2 separate regions of the Homo sapiens genome follow, and region 1 is linked to region 2. The links come from fine-mapping of genetic effects on gene expression. A gene starts in region 2. The other region holds a variant in brackets. All regions are shown on one strand. Distances are from middle to middle.

Evidence for each region. PIP is the estimated chance that this variant, and not a neighbour inherited with it, causes the effect.
Region 1: its variant is the best candidate, but not a certain one, in a credible set for the expression of TEAD4 in cerebellar hemisphere (GTEx, PIP 0.84).

Annotation. Positions count from the first base shown.
Region 1 is chr12:2,977,051-2,982,418 of GRCh38, forward strand. All of the region lies in intron 2 of TEAD4 (TEA domain transcription factor 4), which reads left to right. Among named protein-coding and RNA genes, the nearest start is that of TEAD4, 20 kb to the left of the region's middle. RefSeq lists an enhancer at 3,980-4,599. The variant G/C (reference allele first, on the strand shown) is at 3,084.
Region 2 is chr12:2,956,075-2,961,442 of GRCh38, forward strand. TEAD4 (TEA domain transcription factor 4) reads left to right here and starts at 3,323. Exons shown (of 13, transcript NM_003213.4): 1 at 3,323-3,407; 2 at 3,874-3,966. LOC124902859 (a long non-coding RNA gene) reads right to left here and starts at 3,974. Exons shown (of 2, transcript XR_007063159.1): 1 at 3,667-3,974; 2 at 1,524-2,151. RefSeq lists an enhancer at 3,493-4,228.

The DNA.
Region 1 (5,368 bases), 21 kb after region 2:
CGTGCAAGGAGCCCCTTTTTGGGCCAGGCTCTGTGCTCATGGACATGATGGAATTCAATCCTCACAGCCGTTATTTGGGGAGATTGAGATTGCACTGGTGCCTCTTCAGTGGTTGGGAGGACACTGAGGATTAGAGTAGCTTGCTCAGGACTCCCAGGTCCCTGTGAGGCTGGGCCAGGATCTGAGCTCAGGCGTCTTGAGTCCAGAGCCCAAACGCTAAATCTCTGCCCCAGGCGTCTCTCTCTCTCTTTCTCTTTCTCCCCTTCCTGCTCTCTCTCCCTTTCCCCCTTCCCTTCTTTTTCCTCTCTCTTTTGACCAGGCATTGCTCAAGGGGTCCAGCTCTCTGACTTTTGTTCCAACATCTCCTTAGCCTGGGAAGGATTGTGGGGCCTCCCCCCCTCTCACCTGCTCCCCGTTCCCCATCCTGTCCTGAAGCCAGGTGTGATGAAGGCCTCACACCAAAGGATGGCCGGGAAGGTGCTGCCGTGCATTGCCTTGCAGGGGCTTTACTTGCTTTTCTCAATCCTCAGTGGCTCTGCAGGCAGGAATGCTCATCCCCATTTGACAGGTGATGAAACAGAAGCTTTGGGGAGGTTCAGTAAGTTGCTGAACAGCTGTGCAACGTAGCTGGTGAGAGGCAGGTTTCACTCAGGTCATAGGACTCTGAGGCGTCTTTAACATGTCCCGGACTTCACGTGGCCTTTCCCGAGAACTTGTTGCATTTCAGGAGAGGAAGGGGCACTGCTCAGCAAGAGGAAGGCACTCCAGTGGTGGGAGCTCAGGCCCTGGGACACCTAGGTTTTCTTGGTCTTGTTTTCTGAGAAGGGCCCTTTTTTGGCCTCCGGCAGGCCCTGGCCCTTCCGAAATCACAATGGGATCTGTTTGTTTCTAACTGAGTACACAGCCTGGCCCGGCCCAGCCCAACCAAATCCATTTCTCTGCTGGGTTCTTTCCTTCTCCACCAATCCCTTTCCTTCCATCCCTCGGGACTCACCTGCCTGTGACCTGGGGACTCTCCTGTCCTTCTCTTTTCTTTTCCAGCTGTAACCAGGCCCTTTCCTTTGCTCCTGTATTTCGGGCCCAGGTCCCCTGCAGACCCTCTTTTCCTTCTCTGCCCTCTTCTTTTTGTCTTCTATCTCCTGGTGCGCTTTAAACAATTTTTTTGGTGAAATATATGTAACATAAAATTTGCCATTTGAACTCCAAGTGTGCAGTTTGGTGGCATTAAGGACATTCACAATTGTGCTGCAGTCTCCTGCTTCCATCTCCAGAACTTTTTCATCTTCCGAAACTGAAACGCTGTACCCGTTAAACAGTAAGTGCCTGTTTTTTTTTTTTGTCTTTTTGTTTTTTTTTGTTTTGTTTTGTTTTGAGAGGGAGTCTCACTTTACTCACTTTATTGCCCAGGCTGGAGTGCAGTGGTGCGATCTTGGCTCGCTGCCTCCGGGGTTCAAGTGATTTTTGTGCCTCAGCCTCCTAAGTAGCTGGGACTATAGGCCTGCGCCACCGCCCCTGGCTAATTTTTGTATTTTTTAGTAGAGACAGGTTTCACCATGTTGGCCAGGCTGGTCTCGAACTCCTGACCTCAGGTGATCCACCTGCCTCGGCCTCCCAGAGTGCTGGGATTACGGGTGTGAACCACTGCGCCTGACAATGACTGTTAATGTTATGAATGAAACTCCCCATTCCCCCATCCCCAACCCCTGATAGTCTCTCTTCGGCTGTCTCTATGGATTTGCATATTCTCAGTACTTCATGGAAGTGAAATAACATGAGATTTGTCCTTTCATGACTGGCTTGTTTCACTTAGTGCAATGTCCTTAAGGTTCATCCATGTTGTAGCCTATGTCAGAATTTCATGCCTTTTTTGTTTGTTTGTTTTGGAGATGGAGTCTCACTCTGTTGCCCAGGCTGGAGTGCAGTAGTGTGATCTCAGCTCACTGCAACCTCCGCCTCCCTGGTTCAAGCGATTCTTGTGCCTCAACCTCCCGAGTAGCTGGGATTACAGGCACCTGCCACCATGCCCGGCTAATTTTTGTATTTTTAGTAGAGACAGGGTTTCACATTGTTGGCCAGGCTGGTCTCGAGCTCCCGACCTCAGGTGATCTGCCTGCCTCGGCCTCCCAAAGTGCTGGGATTACAGGCGTGAGCCACCGCGCCCGGTCTCATTCCTTTTTAAGGTCGAATCATCCTCCATTACCTGGATGCACCACATTTTGTTTATCCATTCCTCTATTGATGGACATTTGGGCTGCTTCCCCTTTTGACTATCCTGGTGCCTTTTGACATTCTGTGCTCAGGAACAGCAGACAGCACTTCCGCACTATGCTTGGGACCACTTGAGGCAGCAAAAGCACCTGCAAAAGTGCAGAAGTCACAGCACTAAATAGACCCAGAACAAGACACCTGCAGGAGAGCTGACCCAGGTAGACGAAGTGCGGCGTTGCCGACCTCAGCTGGGAGCGTGCGCGTCAGGCAGTGAGAATTTGTGGCTGCTCAGTGCACGCATGTGTCCACAAATGACTGTGAAGATACTGGGAGTAGTGATTTGGGGGTTAGAAATTTTAGCAAGTTGGCAAACTTGCAAGTACAAAATCTGTGACTATTCTGTGATTAATGAGGATTGACTGTACTTGCATCTTCATAGATGACTCTCCCTCCTTCCCTCCTGAGATGACAGCATTAATCCATTCAGCAAGGCCCAATCACATCTTAAAGGCTCCATCTCCCAACATTCTTGTGTTGGGGATTAAGTTTTTAACCCACGAACTTTGAGGGGCACGTTCATACCAGAGCAGCGCCCAATGCCTGTCATATAGTACATGCCCAGTGAACAGTGAGTGAATGAAGGGCACAAGGACTGAAGTACCTGTGCTGAGTTGTTAGGCATGAGAATCAGCAGGGAGAGATCTTTCTGGCAGGGGAGCCTGTTCCTCTCCTCCCTGGGAAGAAGCCCTCTCCTGTGCTCACTGAGAGGCATCCAGTGATGGTCATGGAGGTTGGAATTGTGTGGCAGAAAAGTGCAGGCCTGAGATGTAGTTCTAGTCCCAGTTTTAACAGGTTTTGTGGTCTTTGGCAAGTCA[G/C]TTCACCTCTCAGGGCCTTAGTCTCCTCACTTATACATTGGAGGGCAGTTTTCTTCCCCGAGATTCTTTCCACACAAACCCTGGGAACCCTGCCTCTCTCCGCTGGGACCTTCACTGGAGGCCGTAGGAACAGTGGGGTCCATGCAACGAAAGAGACCAAGAGGTCTTCGTGTCTGCAGAGATGAACTTCTCTAGCTCCCTTAGCCTGCCAATCCAGGCTACCCCTCCCTCCAACTCTGCACATCTAACTTGCATCCCTCGTGCTGCAGAGTCAGATCATCCCCCTTCCTATTGTCAACAGAAGTGTTTGCAAAATAGGCTGGATGTGGTGGCTTACGCCTGTAATCCCAGCACTTTGGGAGGCCGAGACGGGCGGATCACTTGAGGACAGGAGCTCGAGACCAGTCTGGCCAACATGGTGAAACCCCACCTCTACTAAAAAAACAAAAATTAGCTGGGCATGGTGGTGCACGCCTGTAATTCCAGCTACTCAGGAGGCTGAGGCAGGAGAATCTCTTGAACCTAGGAGGCTGAGATTGCAGTGAGTCCATATCGCTCCACTGTACTCCAGCCTGGGTGACAGAGCAAGACTCTGTCTCAATTAAAAAAAAAAAAAGTTGGCAAAATAGGTCAAAGAAGCATCATGGCCAGGCGCAGTGACTCACGCCTGTAATCCCAGCAGTTTGGGAGGGCGAGGCGGGCAGATGTCTGAGGTCAAGAGCGAAACTCCATCTCAAGAAAAAAGCAGCATCATGATGGGCAGGAGGCAGCTTGCAGTGGGGAAGGGCTTCAGAGCCGCAGTCTGAGCCTTGTCTCTTACTGGCTTTGGGCTGGGACACAGCACTTCACCTTAGGAGCCTCAGCATCTTCACCTGCCAAATGGGGCAGTGCAGCTACCTCAAGGGGATGGGGGCAGGATTGGAGGAAGATGTAGTCAAGTGCTTTGCCCAGTGCCTGATGCAGAGTGGGCATTTGAAACTGGCACCTCCTAGTGTTAAAGTAGTAAAACGTGTGTCCCTCAGTGTCCAGGGCACCTCTTTGACACTCAGCCCTCCCACAAGTGCTGGGCTGCCTGTATCCGTCCTGCAGGGTCGCCTGCCCAGTGCACAGGGGCTTGCACTGTGTGAGGAGGCAGCACAGCCCACCCGGCACTACCTGCAGGATAGGTTCTTCTTTCCCGCCCAGGTCCCCTGGCCTCCTCCCTTTGTCTTCCAGCTCCTGAGTTTCCAAGCTTAGTTAGCGTGGAAGACAGCAGACAACTGACTGGCCAGAGTAGCACAGCACATTCAGGCAATCAGTGTAGCAGCTCAGGGGCCTCTGGGAACTGGGGCTCAGGGAACCCTTCAGGGTAGAGGGGGCCTCTCACTGCACCCGCTTGTGCCCTGTACCTACCTCCACCCAAGCCTCTGACACTCCATAGCACTTACCTGTTTGCATGTCTGTCTAGTCTCCCATCCCCATCTGAAGTCTGAGCCCCATGAAGGTCTGGACCCTTTTCTCTAGAGTTTAGTCCAAGAACAGGTACTTCAAGTAAAGAGTTAGTTGATGGACTGTTGGCAGGAATTAAATTAGTACTGAGGCCCACCCTAAGCAGGGAAGCAGTATGAACAGACTTGGGGCTCAGGAGATGGTGAGAAGCCCAGGGGTGCTGGAGGGTAGTGGGGATGCACCTGGAAGAAGGCTGGGGTCTGCTGCTCCTCTTTCACCTGTCTCATTTTAAGAGATGATTTCTCTTAAAATGAAGAGACTTCTCCATTTCTTATTTTGAGAGATGAAGCCCAGTGACCCCCAAAATCAGGGTGTTTTCTTCTGAATTCTCTGTCTCAGCTCTAGAGGCTGGAGGAGTTGTGAGGGGCTTAGGGATCACAGTGGCTGCAGAAGGCTCTGAAAGGAGGGCTCTGGGAGCGTGAGATGGATCGGACTAGGGAGAGGACGTCAGGTTGGCCTGGGGTCTGGTTCTGCCTTTTCTCGGGGCAGGTCCTTTGCCCTCCCTGAGGCTTGGACTCTCCATTTGGAACTTAGCATCCTGATTCCCTTCCTGTCCTGAAAGTGTTTTTGGAGGAGCTTACTGTTCTGAGTATTAGGGAGATCTTAATAAAAGCCCATACATTCCTGATCCTTCTGGAAATTCCTGAGTAATTAGCACCTGTGGGCCCTAGGATGGAGCAACCTGCTGTCTTCTGGGGTTGCCCTGGGGGCTACCCTGTAGCTTTTGGTTGGGGCTGAGGCAGAGTAGAGGCTCCTGGGCTGGGCCCTGAGAACCAAGTCTGGGATTATTTTTACTC
Region 2 (5,368 bases):
TTTGGAATATAGCCAACACAAATACCCCTACATGAAACCACCCAGCCCTGCCCACACCCTTACTCTCCTCCTCCTGCACAGTCCATCATCAAGCTTGAGTGAGGATCCATTTGTAGGATCCAGACAGCTGAAATATTTCCACCAAAAGACTCATTCCTGAGGGTCAGTGAATTAGGGTCCTGTCCCTTAAGAAATGTAAACATCCCTGGGAAGGGCTGATGTGTGGGTAAAATCACCTTGCCTTTAACTCTTCAGAATTTGTACATCTGTTAACTTTCCTTTACCTAGACATTCCTCAACAGCTCCAAGCCTGAGGTCCCCAAAGCTCCAGAGCTCTCCAGGAGACTATAAGGGTATGGGCCAGAAAGTCAAGATCCTGAAGACACACCTTCCCAGCTTGGATCACTGATGGTCTTGGATAGTTAAGACTTAGAGGGAATAAAGATCTCCAAGTTCGTTGTCAGCAGTCTACCCTAACCGTGACACTAGGGTTGCTTTCCTGTTTCTACTCTGGACTCTGTCCTGCTTTCCTCTCCGTCCCCTGAACCTGGCTGGATTCCCCTCCGACCTCACCCCACTCCCCTTTTGCTTGAATTTCTTTCTTTCTTTTTTTTTTTTTTGAGACGGAGTTTCATTCTTTTTGCCCAGGCTGCAGTGCAATGTCGTGATCTCAGCTCACTGCAACCTCCACCTCCTGGGTTCAAGTGATTCTCCTGCCTCAGCCTCCCGAGTAGCTGGGATTACAGGCATGCACCACCACGCCCAGCTAATATTGTATTTTTAGTAGAGATGGGGTTTCTCCATGTTGGTCAGGCTGGTCTGGAACTCCTGACCTCGTGATCCACCCACCTCAGCCTCCCAAAGTGCTGGGATTACAGGTATGAGCCACTGTGCCCAGCCCTGAATTCTTATCTCACTTACTGACACCAACCATTGTTCAGCTGTTAAAGGTTAGCGATTTTTGTTTTCTCTCTCACTACACAGCCAAATGATCTGAACCGTTTCCTAGCTCCTTCCCCTCCTCCTCAACCTCAGGACCACTGCTTGAGTTTTAGGGCACCCCGAGTCTCCAGTTCAACTGCAAGACTGTTGCAAGACGGTCTTCTTGATGGTGCTGCTGATTAAGTCACACTTGTGTCTTTTTTGATGCCTAACTCTTCAGCATGGCACGCAATGACCTTCAAAGTCTGGTATCCACTTCCTTCAATCTTATTATCCACATCTCTATTCTCCAGCCACACCAGTTTACATAGCTTCGCTAAACACACCAGCAGACTGGCTGCCTCACCTTTGTAGGTGCTATTCCATGTGTCTTAAATGGGGTTTCCAGTCTCAGTTTGGCAAACCCTCATTTATCCTCAAGAGCTAGATCAAATGCACTGTAATTGGATTTCACTGTTCCTTCCCTTGGGTTCCCATTGAACTTTGCATAATTGTCTGTCTTCTCACCTAGACTGGAACTACTTGAGGAAAGGGACCTACTCCTTCCCTTAGTGCGGTGTCAAAGTCAACAAACACTCCAATGATTGCTGAATTAATATAATTATTATTAATTACTTTGAGACAGGGTTTCGCTCTGTCATCCAGGCTGGTGTGTAGTGGTGCATTCACGGCTCACTGCAGCCTCAACTTTCTGGGGTCAAACTATCCTCCCACCTCAGCCTCCTGAGTAGCTGGGACTACAGGTGCAGGCCACCATGATGCCCAGGCTGATCTCGAACTCCTGGGCTCAAGCGATCCACCTGCCTCGGCCTCCCAAATTGCTAAGATGACAGGCGTGAGCCACCGGGCCCCCCATGATTGCTGAATTAAATAGTTGGTGCTTAGTGTGTACTTCACGTGGCGCTGATATGCTGCCTTGCGTTTTGGTCTTTTCATGTGCATGAGGTGTGACCAAGCCTTGATATGATTCATTATTTAACAAGAATACCACAATTCATCTATTCAAATGAGGGCTGCGTCTTCAACGCCTTCACCTTGCAGGACTGGATGCTTAGCTCAGTCATTGCTTGAAACACTTTTGGAATACCTCTCTTGGAAACAACTTTGGCATCGATAGCACTTTCCTTTCAATATCTTCCACGGTAGCAATTGTTTTTCATTTATGCAGCATTTATCATGCACTTCCCTATCCCAGGCACCAGGCTGGATCTGTGTGAAAGATAAGATAAATCAGACATTACTCTGTCTTCAAGGAAGTTTCTGTTTGGCAAGGGAGATAAGATCTAGACAACCACCCAACACAAGGCTAAGTGATAATGCCCCAGAAAAGGTTGGATTTGATTTTTGGAAAAAGCCAAAAGTCCTTTGGTTTCAGTCTCCTGGCCAGGTAGATGATGGCGCTACCTGCCAGCACACTGCTTTAAGCCCGTTTGTCCTAAGCGTCTCCAAACAAGGAGCCCAGCGTGTTTCCAGCACCTCCTGCCCCAATAAGAGACTCCTGGGCATGTGTGTCTGAAGTCCAGACTCTCACCGATGGCAGTATACACCGAGGCCTCCCCAGCTAAACTCTGAGCTCTTTGAGGGCAGGTGCTGACGGCTGATCCTGATCTTCACAGTATCTGGACTCATCACACATCTTAGATGAATATTCATTGAGTCACTGAGCCCAGAAGGCGTCCCATGGCATGCCACATGGACTTCAAACCGAGTGCCCTTTCTCCCATGTGGTTTACTCGTAGTGGCGGTTTTACAGATGCCCAAGGGGCAGGAGAGAAAAACGGAAAGAGCTAAAGCCGGGGAGGGCAAGCGAGGGGGCACTGGCAGCGGATCTGGGAATGGAGCCCGCGAGTTCCTGCTTCCTGGTTCCCCGGAGCAAGTGTCCTTTGGTGGGAGCCGCAGGAAGGGAGCAGCCCTTCCTGCGCGCCGGGAGCCCGCCCCTTCCCCGGCCTCCCAGGGACTCGTGCGGAGGGACGCCGGGTGGCGGGGCGGGAGTCTGGGCCCCGTCCACCCCCCCGCCCCCGGGACAGCCCCACCCCGGCGAAGAGGAAGGCTCTCGGCTCCTGGGAAAGGGAGTCGGGACCCCGCCAGGAGGGGAGGGCGCGGGGCGCGCAACGAGCAGCCAAACAGTCGGAGCGGAGAGATCGAAGGGCTAGTGGGCGTGGGGGCCGCAGCCGAGGCCCGGGTGGAGGGGTCCCCGCCGTCCCTCGGCCCCCTCCCCCGCCGCCCGCCCCGGCCCGGCCCGGCCCCGCCCCGCCCCGGCGGCCCGGCCCCTCGCCCGCCCGCGCGCGGCGCAGTCTCCTCCCCGAGGTGCCGGTGGCCCCGCCGCCACTCCCTCCGGCTCCCTCCCTCCCGCCGCGGCGCGCATCTCATTCCAGCCCTCATTCCGCGCATTCCAGCGTCCTCCTCGCACACTCGAGGCCAGGGGGCGGGAGGGCCGCAGCTCCGGCGCCGCCGCGTCCCGCCAGGTGAGAGGCGCCCGCGCCCGCCGCACCCGCCGGCGCCCTCACGGGCCGCGCGCCCCACGCCGCCGCAGCCGACCGCTCGCGCCGCGTGCTCGGCTGCTCTTTTCTTTCCGCCGCCCGCGTTCCCGCCTTGGACCTCTGCGCTCCGACGCGCTCCGTCCCGACCTCTGGCTTCCCTCCGCGCTCCGGCGCTGCTCGCTGCCCCTCTCCCGCTTCCCTCCTGTCCGCCCCGCGCTCCCCTCCTCGCTCCCGGTTGACTCACTCCTCCAGGAATAGGGATCCCCGTGTTTTCCCGTCAGTCCCATTCTGGGAAAACTCCTCCCTCCGCGCGCTCCGCTCCGCTCCGCTGGGCGCACCGGGGCCGGTCGGCGCGGGGTGGGCTTGGCCCCGCGGCCCCGCCTTCACTGCGCCGCCCGTCGGCCCCGGCCGGAGCCCGGCTCTGCGCGCTGACGCCCTGTCGTCCCCGCAGAACGATCGCCGCGGCCGGAAGAGTTGGCGCTCGGGGCGGACTCCTTGGAACTGGCTTAGCGCACCCATCCCACCTTCCCGCACCCTGGGACCGGTAAGGCTGGGGCGCGGGGACTTGGTAGGACTTTGCCGGAGGGCAGGAGTCTGCGCGGTGCGTGCGGAGCTCCCTCCCGGGACGAGACTGGGAAGAGCGAGGCACGTGGAGGCGGCGCGACTGAGGCTGCTGGAGGCGAAGCGGCTCCAGGGGCGGGTAAGGGGGGTGGACACTCGGGACTTTGGGGGAAAGGGAGGCCGGTGTGGAAAGGACCGGAGAGGCAGAACCGAGAGCATCGGCAACAGAAGAGACCCAGCACCCATGCCTCTTTTCTGCTGGGCCCTTTTCGAGCCTGGAAGGGAGAGACCTGGAGGTAAGCGGACTGCCTGTTTTAAGTGCAAAGGCGATGCGAAAGTCGGGGGACCCCTGCAAAAGGTCCTACACCTCAGGGCTTGGGAAGCTGCTGTGTTTCCTGATGGGGACTAGTGGATCGATCCAGGGAGCAGAACTTTCAAACCCCAAAGTGAACATTTCCCCCGTTGTGCTGAGGCACTTGAGGCCCCGCGGACTGACTGCGTCTGTGCTGAGTCTGTGTGACACCTGACTGCGAGTCCCCCTCGCTTTGAGTCTCTGTGTGGGTGATGTCTGTTCACGTGTGGCTCACCTTGGCTTCCAGTGGGCGTATTTGTTTGTGTTGAACGTGAGTGACAGAGTGTGTGTATATGTCTGCGTGAGAAGGGGCTGTCTGAAAGTGAGTATCTCTGAGTAGGTGTGTGATGCCACGTCTCTTGAGTATGTGTTTCTCTTCGAGGATGTTGGTTCTGGCTAGGACTGTTCTTCCTCCCTACATAGCCGTGGGCAAGAGTCAGTGTCTCTGGTTGCCTGAGTGCAGGGATAATTTGACTGTGGTTTTGGAGTGTGTGGCCTCCAGGCTCCGTTTCCCCTGGACCGGGCAGAGCTGGAAGGAAGCTGGCTCCACCTGCCTCTTGGAGCCAGGAGGCTGACTTTCTCAGGGCGAGGGTCTTGTGCTTGCCTGGAATAGGTCAAAAAGCTGGTAGGAGGCTGAAGGAAGTTGAGATCTTTGCCTTTGGGGGATGGGATGGGCGGGTGAGATTTGGGAAGGTTTGTCGGGGTGGATCCCCGGGAAAAGGAGACAGTTTTGAATCTGGAGACTTGTGTAAATAGTGCTTTTAAGTTGCCCTCAAGGACAAACAGGGAGGTATACCAGCCTGAACTACTTTTCCTGGTTTAACTCTCCTCGGAGCTGACCAGGTAACCCAGTAGAAGAATCCCTCATTCTTTCCAACTTGCCAGACACTCAGCACTTCCTTTGAGAAGAGGAATGAGTAGCTTGTTGCATGAGGGCTTCAACGTGGATATCATGTGTAGGGCTTCTTGGAAGGAAGGAGCCAGAAACTGTCTCGGGGGTTGGGGGTTCTCGTCCTTGCTCCTCCATCCATCC